Homo sapiens: one gene and its partner. The protein of the gene in region 2 binds, or shares a complex with, the protein of the main gene of each other region. Each region holds a gene or a part of one and is shown on either strand. Other genes may lie near its edges. The genes, in order: MED4 and CCNC.

Region 1 (3,192 bases), on a different chromosome or scaffold from region 2:
TTTGTTACATGGCAAGGAAGAATTAAGGTTGCAAACAGAATAAAGGTTGCTAATCATCTCACTTTAAATAAGAAGATTATTCTGGGTTATCCAGTGGGCTCAGAATGATCACAGGATCCTTTAAATATGGGACAGGTAGGCAGAAGAGCATCACAGTAATGCAGAATGAGAAACACTCACCAACCAGGGGCCTGGAGCAGGACCAAGGGCGGCCTCTAAAACCTGGAAGACACAGGGGACAGATTCTCCCCTATGGCCTCCAGGAAGGAATGCAGCCCTGCTCACACCTTGATTTTAGGTGAGACCCACTTCACATTTGTGATGTACAAAACTAAGATAAATTTGTGTTGTTTTGAGCCAAGTTTGTGGTAATTTGTTACGGCAGCAACTGAAAACTAATACAGTATTAAAGAATTTGAAAAACACAATCCTTTTGAATCTACCCTAAAGATTTGGTGATAAAAACAGGCAGTTACATTATGGCACATACCACAATAAAATTTTAGCCATTAAAGTAAATCTTTCAAGAATGTATACACATGGATCAATATTCCTAGTATACGGACAAGGCAAGGTTAAAATTAGATATTGTGTTAGTCCATTCCTAAAAATAACCCTGGAGGGAAAGACATTCAAACATTGTATGTCCTTAATTCTAGATGGTGAAAATATAAGATTAATCTCCTATTTTCCAATTTTTCTAGAGATCGAAAATAATCAAAAGGAAAAAATGATGGAAAAATGGAATTCTCAGTTCATTTGAAGAATACAGATTAGCAATTAAAAAATACAGCAGTATCTCAGGAAATAAACATTATTCTCATTTTACAAAAAAGTGTATGTGAACTTTAAAAAAATCTACACTACAATATGAATTGATATTATCTCTGGGTAGAATGCTAACAATTTTATTTTCTCCTTTACTGTATTCACTAAATGTTTCACATTAAATGTTGTATTACCTTTGAAATCAGAAGATACATTGTCTAAAACTGATACATCAAGAAATAGTTGTATAAGCATATTACCTAAACACAGAGGTTACCAACAGAAATTAAAAGTGGTTAAAAATGACTCCTGGGGAACTGTAAGAAGAGGAAGGTGAAGGGAAGAAATGGTTGCTTTCCATTCTAAATCTTCACACAATCTATTCTTAAAATCAGACAAGGCTGTGGTAAATTTTTTCAATTATTAAAAAAAATTATTTCTTCTAATAGGAATAGGCCTTTGAGAACCCTATTAATTGTAATAGGTTTCAATTCAGTTAGTCACTCAAGTATTATAAAATGCAACTGGATTTACAGAAATAATTTCCTACCTACACTGACAGTATATTTAAACTAAAAAAAAAGCATACAATGTACAAACAAATTTATTTACAAAAATTACAATTACAAACTGTACAAATTGAGACAATTTCCCATGCCTCCAACAGAAGCCAAGAGCCTTTACTGTCAAATGGCAGTTTTTGTTACTTTTAAATGACACACAAAAAGAAATATGATGCCTATTCAGTCATCCACTGCCAGTTTAAAAATGCTTTTCTAAATAATTCCAAGAAGCCTATTAGTGATATGTATATGGATAATTTCCCTCAACTCTATTTCTAGAATGGCTATGTACAAATCCAGCAAAACTGGAACAGAACAGGGTAAGAAAGCACATAGCAACTGCTTTTTCAACAGTAAATTTTGACTATTCCCCTAAATATCTACCTAGTGGCTTAAAACTAAAACTATGGTCTTTGGCTTTAAAAAGAAAGTCAAAAAATTTTGACTTTTAATGACTGCACAATTCTACCAAAGCCAGTGTTTACCTGGGTATTTTTTGTCACCTGTAGTTTACATTTCCCTGCTACTGTTAAAGAAACAGAATTCTACAGTATTCAATTCTGTATATTGTCTTTTAAGGTTTTTCAATCAGACTCACTACTACTGCTTGAGGAGTCCGTTGACATAATCTCTACATCATCTTCATTTTCTTTATTATGCCCAGGAGGTTCCAACAAAAAGTCACTACTATGATTTGGTGGTAACATATTCATCGACATGTCATTTGACTGCCATGGATACTGTGGAGCAAGGACATCTGGAGAAAAAAAGAAGCATAGATAAGAACAGCTCTATCTGTAATTAATCTAGTTCTTACTTTTCCCTTTATGCAACAATTTGAAGTATTTTTTTTAATTTTACTTTTTTCTCTTCTTTTTTTGACACAGGGTCTCATTCTGTCACCCAGGCTTGAGTGCAGTGGCACGAATACATCACTGAAGCCCTGACCTAGGCTCAAGCAATCCTCCTGCCTCAGCCTCCTGAGTAACTGGGTTACAGGTATGTGCCACCATGCTTGAGTACTTTTTAAAGTTTTTGTAGAGATGAGGTCTCACTATGTTAACCAGGCTGGTCTCCAACTCCTGGGCTCAAGCTATCCTGCTACCTCAGCCTCCCAAAGTGTTGGGATTACAGGCATAAGCTATTGTGCCAATTTTTTTAAGACTAGGAAAAAAATACACATTTAGCCAAATTAATAAAAATCAAATTTATCAAGGAAAAGTTGATATTTTAGCAACTGGGGACTTTTTTAAAAAAATCATACTACTCTGTAAGAAACTATTTAGTCAGTTGACATAATTTTTCTTTTGTAAGACATTTGTAATTACAAATTTTTCCTGTATCTATGTATCTATTATATGCATATATAATACATACTTATGTATACTAGGTTATGTAGATTATTCTACATATTATAAACAAGTAATAGGTACTTTAGTATTATAATAGATTTGAATGATTTCTTGATAGAGGAACTGCTATTGTAAGTGACTCTCATCAAAGAGAGGTTGATTAGCAATGTATGCATATGAAATACCTTAAAAAAGGGCCCAAGTTACATTTAAAGTCTGTATTTCTGAAGCAAAGGGACAGAGCACATAAACAGGTATAGTTCAAGACTCAAATAAAGAAGGCAGATTTTTAAAGGGTCAAAAGAAAGAGTTATGGTATTAACTAGAAAGGTATGCCAGTTAGCCTCAAATCTACCCTTCTCTCTGGCCCCTGAAACCATTTCTCCTTTGCCAGCTGCCACAATTAAGTTTTGTCAGTAGAGGGCACAGGTGGGACTCCACTAGCAAACAAGTTTCACTTCCTGGATCAGGTGGTTTTGTCTCCTTTACTGCTGTGATGCCTGGTTGGT
Region 2 (7,311 bases):
CCTATTAAAATGTCAATAGAAATTCACCTTATATTTCATATTGTTCCATTAGTTTTTAATCCCAGCTAAATAGTAGTATCACCTGGGACCTTTTACACAGTACCAATGTTGGGAGCCCCAAGGCTGAAAATTCTGATTTTGTTGTTCTGGAAAGGATCCAACATCAGTATTATTTACAAGTTCCCAAGGTGATTTAATGAGCAGCCAGGGTTGATAATCGCCACTATGAAGTATTTTTTTTAAATGGTAAAAGCTATTTAGCTTTAATTTAGAATAATGTCTGTATTTATGTAATATTTGAAACTGCCATTTCTAGGAAACTATTAAATTTAGTCTAATATAAAATAGAGCTAGTTTATATATAGCTTTGATAATTGTTCCATTTTATATCATATACTTACATGATTCATCCTATAAGGAAATTCCTTTGGAAAGGCATATGAAAATCTAGTTTTTACTGCAGAAAATAAAAAAAAAATTTAAACTGAGAAAATGGGAAATAAATTAACTCAAAATTCCTTTAACAGAGCAGAATATTAGAGGGTAGAGCAAAATTATTTTCAGTAGGAATTCTTGGCAACACTTACGGACGCAGATTTTTATTTACTTTCAGGGAAGGGGAAAGACTGGGGGGCAGGACACTCTACACAGCTTCAATTTTATATTTACTACCTTAAGAAAGGATTCTGATGTTTAAAAAAGAAAAAGATCAGGAAAAAAAAATCACTGGCTTTTATCATTTCTAAAATCTTTTCAGCTACAGAATGGTATTCTTCTGTTTTCCAGTGACTGAGCTTAGAAGGAACACAGGGGTTACATATGTGTTTACAATATATACAATTGGTAAAAAATATACATATAAAATATTGGGAGGATAGTACACCAAAAAAATGTTAACAGTGGTTATTTGTGAGATTTAAGAACTTTTTACTAATCTGCACTTTCTAAACTTTTTACAATGACCAGGTATTTATCAAAATATATATTTTAATAAAAGCATTAATATATATGCAAAGGTCTCGAGTTACTCATAAAGTAGTAGTAGTAACACATAAAGTTAGTACTCTATTATCTATTACTTTATTGGTTAGTCACTAAATAAAGTACAAATGAAAAAAAAATGTTAACCATCAATCCCCCATCTCCTTAAAATGGTGTGAGCATATACACATAAGTACTATTTGAGAAACTGTATTCAAGCCATTATGACACATTTAATTCAACCAAGTAACTACTGACAGGTCCTAAAAAATGTTTAGTGTCAGCTTCCATTTGTACAAAGCCCAAGTGATTTCACTGAAATTAAAAGAAATTCCATTTCTGGCCAGGCACAGTGGCTCATGCCTGTAATCCCAGCACTTTGGGAGGCCAAGGTGGGTGGATCACCTGAGGTCAGGAGTTCGAGACCTCCTGGACAACATGGTGAAACCCCATCTCTACTAAAAATACAAAAATTAGGCGAGTGTAGTGGCATGCACCTGTAGTCCCGGCTACTCGGGAGGCCGAGGCAGGAGAATCCCTTGAACCCGGGAGGCAGAGGGTGCAGTGAGCTGAGAACACACCACTGCACTCCAGTCTGGGTGACAGTGAGACTCCATCTCAAAAAAAAAAAAAGAAAGAAATTCCATTTCTTCTATGCACTATGTTTTCAAAAAGATTTGTTTTGCAAATTCAGTGCCCTACAGCTAATTTAGATGTGTAATATCTGCCAGGATTTGAAACCTAGAATAATTTAAACTTGACATTAGTAAATTTATAATCTTTCCTTTCTTCTCTCCTTTATTTAAATTTAAGACGTACCTATTAAGGTTTCTGAGTTTTACAAATCCTTGTGATGTAAAGTATACCAGCACAACAGGTTCTTATATAATGGTAGACAATCAACAAAGTAAAATTATCTCTGTATATAAAACAAATCTACATCCCCATCCCCTGGACCTTGACACCTAACACCTCTATTGAGAATATATTTACCTGATACTGTCACATGTCTGTTACTCCATGCTAAAACTGCTCTGCATTTTTTTCTGTCTTTTAATCCTTTTCCTCCAACTTGGAGAAAAATACATCCCTCCTCTCTATTGTTTGTCTTACCACTTATACACTTATTATCATCTATTCAATTGATAACTCCTGCTATTTTTTTCATCTTTAACCTTCCTCCTTCAGTAAATCTTCCATCACATACTAATATGCTCAAATTTCCCTTGAAAAAAGCAAAACAAACTCTACCTAATTATATTCCTCTGCCTTTTATTTTTGTAGACTCAAACACTGAGATCATGCACAGTTCTCTTATACCCACCGTTATTGACTTCCCAGCCTCCAGAACTGTGAGAAATAAATGTCTGTTGTGAAAGCCACCCAGTCTATGGTACTTTCTTATATTAGCCCAAGTGGACTAAGACATGCCTTCACCCAGCTTCCCCTACTATTAACATCTTACATTAGTATGGCGCATTTGTTACAATTACTGACCCAATATTGAAATGTTATTATTAACTAAACTGTACTTTTTTCAGATCTCCTTAGTTTGTACCAATGTCCTTTTTCTATCCTAGGGTCTTATCTAGGATACCACATTATATTTATTTGTCATGTTTCCTTAGACTGTTTGGCTGTGACAGTTTTCTAGCCTTTCCTTGTTTTTGATGACTTTGACAGTTTTTAGGAGTACCAGTCAAGTATTTTGTCAAATGCCCCTCTACTGGAATTTGTCTGATGTTTTTCTCATTAGACTAGAGAAAATGGGTTTTTGACAGGAAGACCACCGAGATAAAGTACCATCTTCATCATATCACATCAATGATACATGATATTAATGTGATTTATCACTGTTGCTACTGACCTTGATCGCCTGGCTAAGGCAGTATTTCTCAGGTTTCCCCACTGTAAAGTTACCTTTTTCCTCCCTTTCCATATGTACACACTAGCAGGAAGTTAACATGTATAGCCAGCACCTTAGGAGTGGGGAGTTATGCTCCCTCTACTTGAGGGCAGAATAGTTACATATATTATTTGGAATTCTTCAGCATGGAAGACATGTCTCTTCTCCCTCATTTATTTATATCAGTATGGACTCATGGATATTTAGTTTATACTTTGAGTTATTATCCAATGCTATTTTTAAAATTTTGATGCTCAAATTCTTTCAGCTTTGGTCAGTGGGAGCTCTCTTAGTTAGCTCCTATATCCTTTTGACATATCCTCATCAATAGACGTTTTTGTTTTTCTTGTTTGTTTTGAATACTTCTTTATTACTGGCATTAAGAGATGGTCCAGGTCCATCTTGTGTATTTCTTGCCCCAGTCCTAGAATCAACCATTTCTCCAAGGAGCCCTGGTACCTTTTATTGGAGAATGATATTAGAAACCAAGATATGGGTACTAGGTGAGCTCATTGCTACTGGGATGTCATTGCTTATAGACCCTTTCAGCTGAGAAAGCCAAGAAATACACACACTAACCCATGTATATACACTTATCTATAAATATTTCTATATGTAACTAACCATCTATATTGTATTAAGGTACACGAGTTCATGCTGTTTCCAGCCCTTTGCTTATCTGTAAATTCCCGCTCCAACAATGAGAAACCCGGCTCTCAAACATTTGCTATTGATTTACGTAATTGTTTAATTCCCATATACATGTATAGCATTATCAGAATTGTTAACTTGTACACCCATGGGTAATAACTTTATCAACTAGAGTACAGTGCTTATGTGTAGTTCCTTTTGCCTTTACTCTTACACTCTTAATCATTTCCAAAGCTACTTATGTCAACACCTTTCCCCCAATTCCCTTCACTGAAGTTGTTTCATATATTTTTAATATAGTTAGACTATTCCTTTCTCAGCACCTACTTGCTTCTTAATTCCTTGCAATCTGGCTTCTACCTCCACCCCCACATTGTTAATGACACTATGTTCTCTCTCAAAGATGTTTTTTTCTTTGGTTCACATCTTTTTCTATGCAGCATAAGACATTGTGGAACTCTTTTTTTTTTTAATTTTTAGGGACAGAGTCTTACTCCATTGCCCAGGCTGGAGTGCAGTGGCATAATCACAGTTTACTGCAGCCTTGAACTCCTGGGCTTAGGCAACCCTCCCACTTCAGCCTAGTTGAGTAGCTAGGACTACAGGTGTGTGCCACCATGCCCAGTTAGTTTTTCTTTAATTTTTTGCAGAGCTGGAATCTTGCTATGTTGTCCAGGCTGGTCTTGAACTCCTGTTCTAAAGCAATCCTCCTGCTCCAGCCTCCCAAAGTGTTCGGATTATAAGCAGGAACCACCATACCTGGCCTGTGCAACTCTTAAATGTTATCAAATTCCAAATTTCTACTGCTGGCCTCACATTTTTAAGAGGATGTTCTACTAACATATTTATACTTAGAATGTCAAAGATTAAATTTAATTCTTTTCAGAACTCACTTATTCTCTTTTTCAGTACCAGCTTCAGCTCCCCAACCCCCAGGCAAAAAAACCTCAAAACACATTTCTGACTCTTCTTAAATCCCTTCTTTTTATAAGAACTGCTGACTCTATCGCTCAAATCTGGCTTGTTTGTTCTTCTTGCTGGCTGCCAATATTCGTTTAAGCCTTCATTAGTGTTCACTGGGATGACTTCAGCAACTTAAAAATTATTTTTTCCACTTTAAACTTGTTAGGTTTTATTTCTCATAGCACCCTGTGGTAAGTGACAGCACTCAATACAGTTTGCAGTTTTACTGTATTTCAGAAGGTTTTTGTTTTTAAATTGTGTTAAGATATACAAAATTTTTGCAAAACTGAAACTCTGTATCCATTAATCACTCCCTATACCACCCTTCCTCCAGCCCTACCATTCTACTTTCTATCTTTATTAATTTGACTAAGTATTCCATGTAAGTGTAATCACACAATATTTGTCTTTGTTACTGGCTTATTTCACTTACCATAATGTCCTCAAGGTTCATCCATGTTGTGGGATGTAAATAACTTCAAAATTTGTCTAATTCTACCTGCCCTCTCCTCCAATTCATCTTACATAATTCTGTCAGATTTACCTTCCTAATGCACAATGCTAGCATTACCCTCATGTGTGAAAATAAATAAAACTGGCCAGGCACAGTGGCTCACGCCTGTAATCTCAGCACTTTGGGAGGCTGAGGTGGGTCAGATTTACCTTCCTAATGCACAATGCTGGCATTACCCTCATGTGTAAAAATAAATAAAACTGGCCAGGTGCAGTGGCTCACGCCTGTAATCTCAGCACTTTGGGAGGCCTGAGGTGAGGAGTTTAAAACCAGCCTGGCCAAAATGTTGAAACCCCATCTCTACTAAAAATACAAAAATTAGCCCGGCGTGGTGGCACACACCTGTAATCCCAGCTACCAGGGAGGATGAGGCAGGAGAATCGCTTGAACCTGGGAGGCAGAGGTTGCAGTGAGCCAAGATCGTGCCACTGCACTCCAGCCTGGGCGGCTGAGCGAGACTCCATCTCAAATAACTAACTTTCATTACTGTCAATAGAACAAAGTGCAGATTCCTTCATTTAGCATCGAAGGCCCTCTATTAGCTGAAATTAGGTAAGGAGTTTTCCCCACTATTTCCTTACTCACCATTCAGTTAATCTAACTCATGAGCTTTCCCTATTTGACTAAACTATTCAGTGTTCTTAGACTGTCTATCTCTTGCATTTCCCCAGTTCAACTTCCTTCACCAAGTTCTACTTAATCCTTTCTGGATTCATGAAACAATCTTTTCCCACCCAAAACATTCACAGCATTCTCTGTAACTCTCTTATACTATTTATTTCCTTCTGTATTAATATTTTTATGTTTCTGTCTTCTTTTTTTGTCCTTAAATTCCTTGTATTTTACCTTGGTACCAATGCCACTGCATTGGCACAGTGTTTTCCAGTGATAATGATGTTGTTGTCATTGAAGATGATGATGATGATGATAGCCCCTAAAGTTTACCAAGTATTGTGGACCAATATATGTCCCCCTCCAAAATTCGTATGTTGAAGCCCTAACTCCTAGTACCTCAGAATGTGACTGTATTTGGAGAGAGGGTCTTTAAAGGGATAAGATTAAATGAGGACAGGCCAGACATGGTGGCTCACACCTATAATCCCAGCACGTTGGGAGGCCGAGGCTAGCGGATCACGAGATCAGGAGTTTGAGACTAGTCTGGCCAACATGGTGAAACCCCGTCTCTACTAAAAAATACAAAAATGAGCTGGGCATGGTGGCACATGCCTGTAGTCCCAGGTACTCAGGAGGCTGAGGCAGGAGAATCACTTGAACCCAGGAGGCGGAAGTTGAAGTGAGCACTCCAGCCTGGGCGACAGAGCGAGACTCTGTCTCAAAAAAAAAAAAAAAAAAAAGAAAGAAAAAAAAAAGATTAAATGAGGACATAAGAGTGGGGCCTAATTCTGTAAGACTATTGTCCTCACATGAAGAAGACAGCAAACCAGGAGTGTGTGTGCTCACAGAAAGGTCCATGTAAGAATAGCCAGACACCTTGATCTTGGATTTCCATGCTCTAAAACTGTGAGAAAATACGCTTCTGTTGTTTAAGCCACCTGTTCTGTGGCATTTTGTTATGGCAGCCTCAGCAAAGTAACATACTAAGCAAGGCACTGTTCTAAAAGCTTATATTAACTCATTTGGTCCTCATAACAACCCAACAACACAGGAACGGGTTTGCACATAGATATTAATATCTACCCATAAGAATGACATAATAGTCATTAGAAAACAATAAAATACAATAAAATTCGGAAACAGAATTTTTTCTTTACTCTTACAAGATTAAAAGCCACTGAGTTGATGTTTTTGGATTGATAATTACTATCCATTTTAACATTAAAAGTAATATCTTTATATCTTTTTAAAAAAAAACCTTTTAGCTTGATTTTTTTGCCAGATACACTAGATATAAAGTTATCCTCAGGAAATTTAATAAAGCCAACCAATCTCATATGTCTCATAAACTAAAAAAAAAAAAATCTATGTACTCTGGAGCTTTCTTTAGAATTACATCCTTAAAGCAGATATACTTTTTGCACTTACATACAGAAGTAGCAGCAGCAATCAATCTTGTATTTGAAACTACTCCAAATTCCTAAAGAAAGAAAAGCAGGTACATGTTAACCCAATGAATCTAAGGGTATCTGAACTCTATTCAAAACAGGATTTCCTTGCTCCTGTTTACAATCTGTTCACCTTCTAACTACTTGAGGTGTGAAGTACTTACACTCCTAAATGTACAGGCTGATTACCCCTTATCTGACATGCTTAGGATCAGAGATTTTTCTGATTTAGG

What was found.
Region 1: CCNC (region 2) and MED4 share a complex: the UniProt entries of both Homo sapiens proteins name them as parts of the mediator complex.

The regions. Positions count from the first base shown.
Region 1 is NC_000013.11:48,075,224-48,078,415, forward strand, and holds the end of MED4 (mediator of RNA polymerase II transcription subunit 4), read right to left. Parts: intron 2,331-3,192; exon of another isoform or gene 2,219-2,330; intron 2,129-2,218; exon of another isoform or gene 2,089-2,128; coding exon 1,916-2,088; 3' UTR 501-1,915; downstream 1-500. UniProt on the Homo sapiens protein: Component of the Mediator complex, a coactivator involved in the regulated transcription of nearly all RNA polymerase II-dependent genes.
Region 2 is NC_000006.12:99,551,439-99,558,749, forward strand, and holds part of CCNC (cyclin-C), read right to left. Parts: intron 7,111-7,311; coding exon 7,059-7,110; intron 2,364-7,058; exon of another isoform or gene 458-2,363; coding exon 402-457; exon of another isoform or gene 1-401. UniProt on the Homo sapiens protein: Component of the Mediator complex, a coactivator involved in regulated gene transcription of nearly all RNA polymerase II-dependent genes.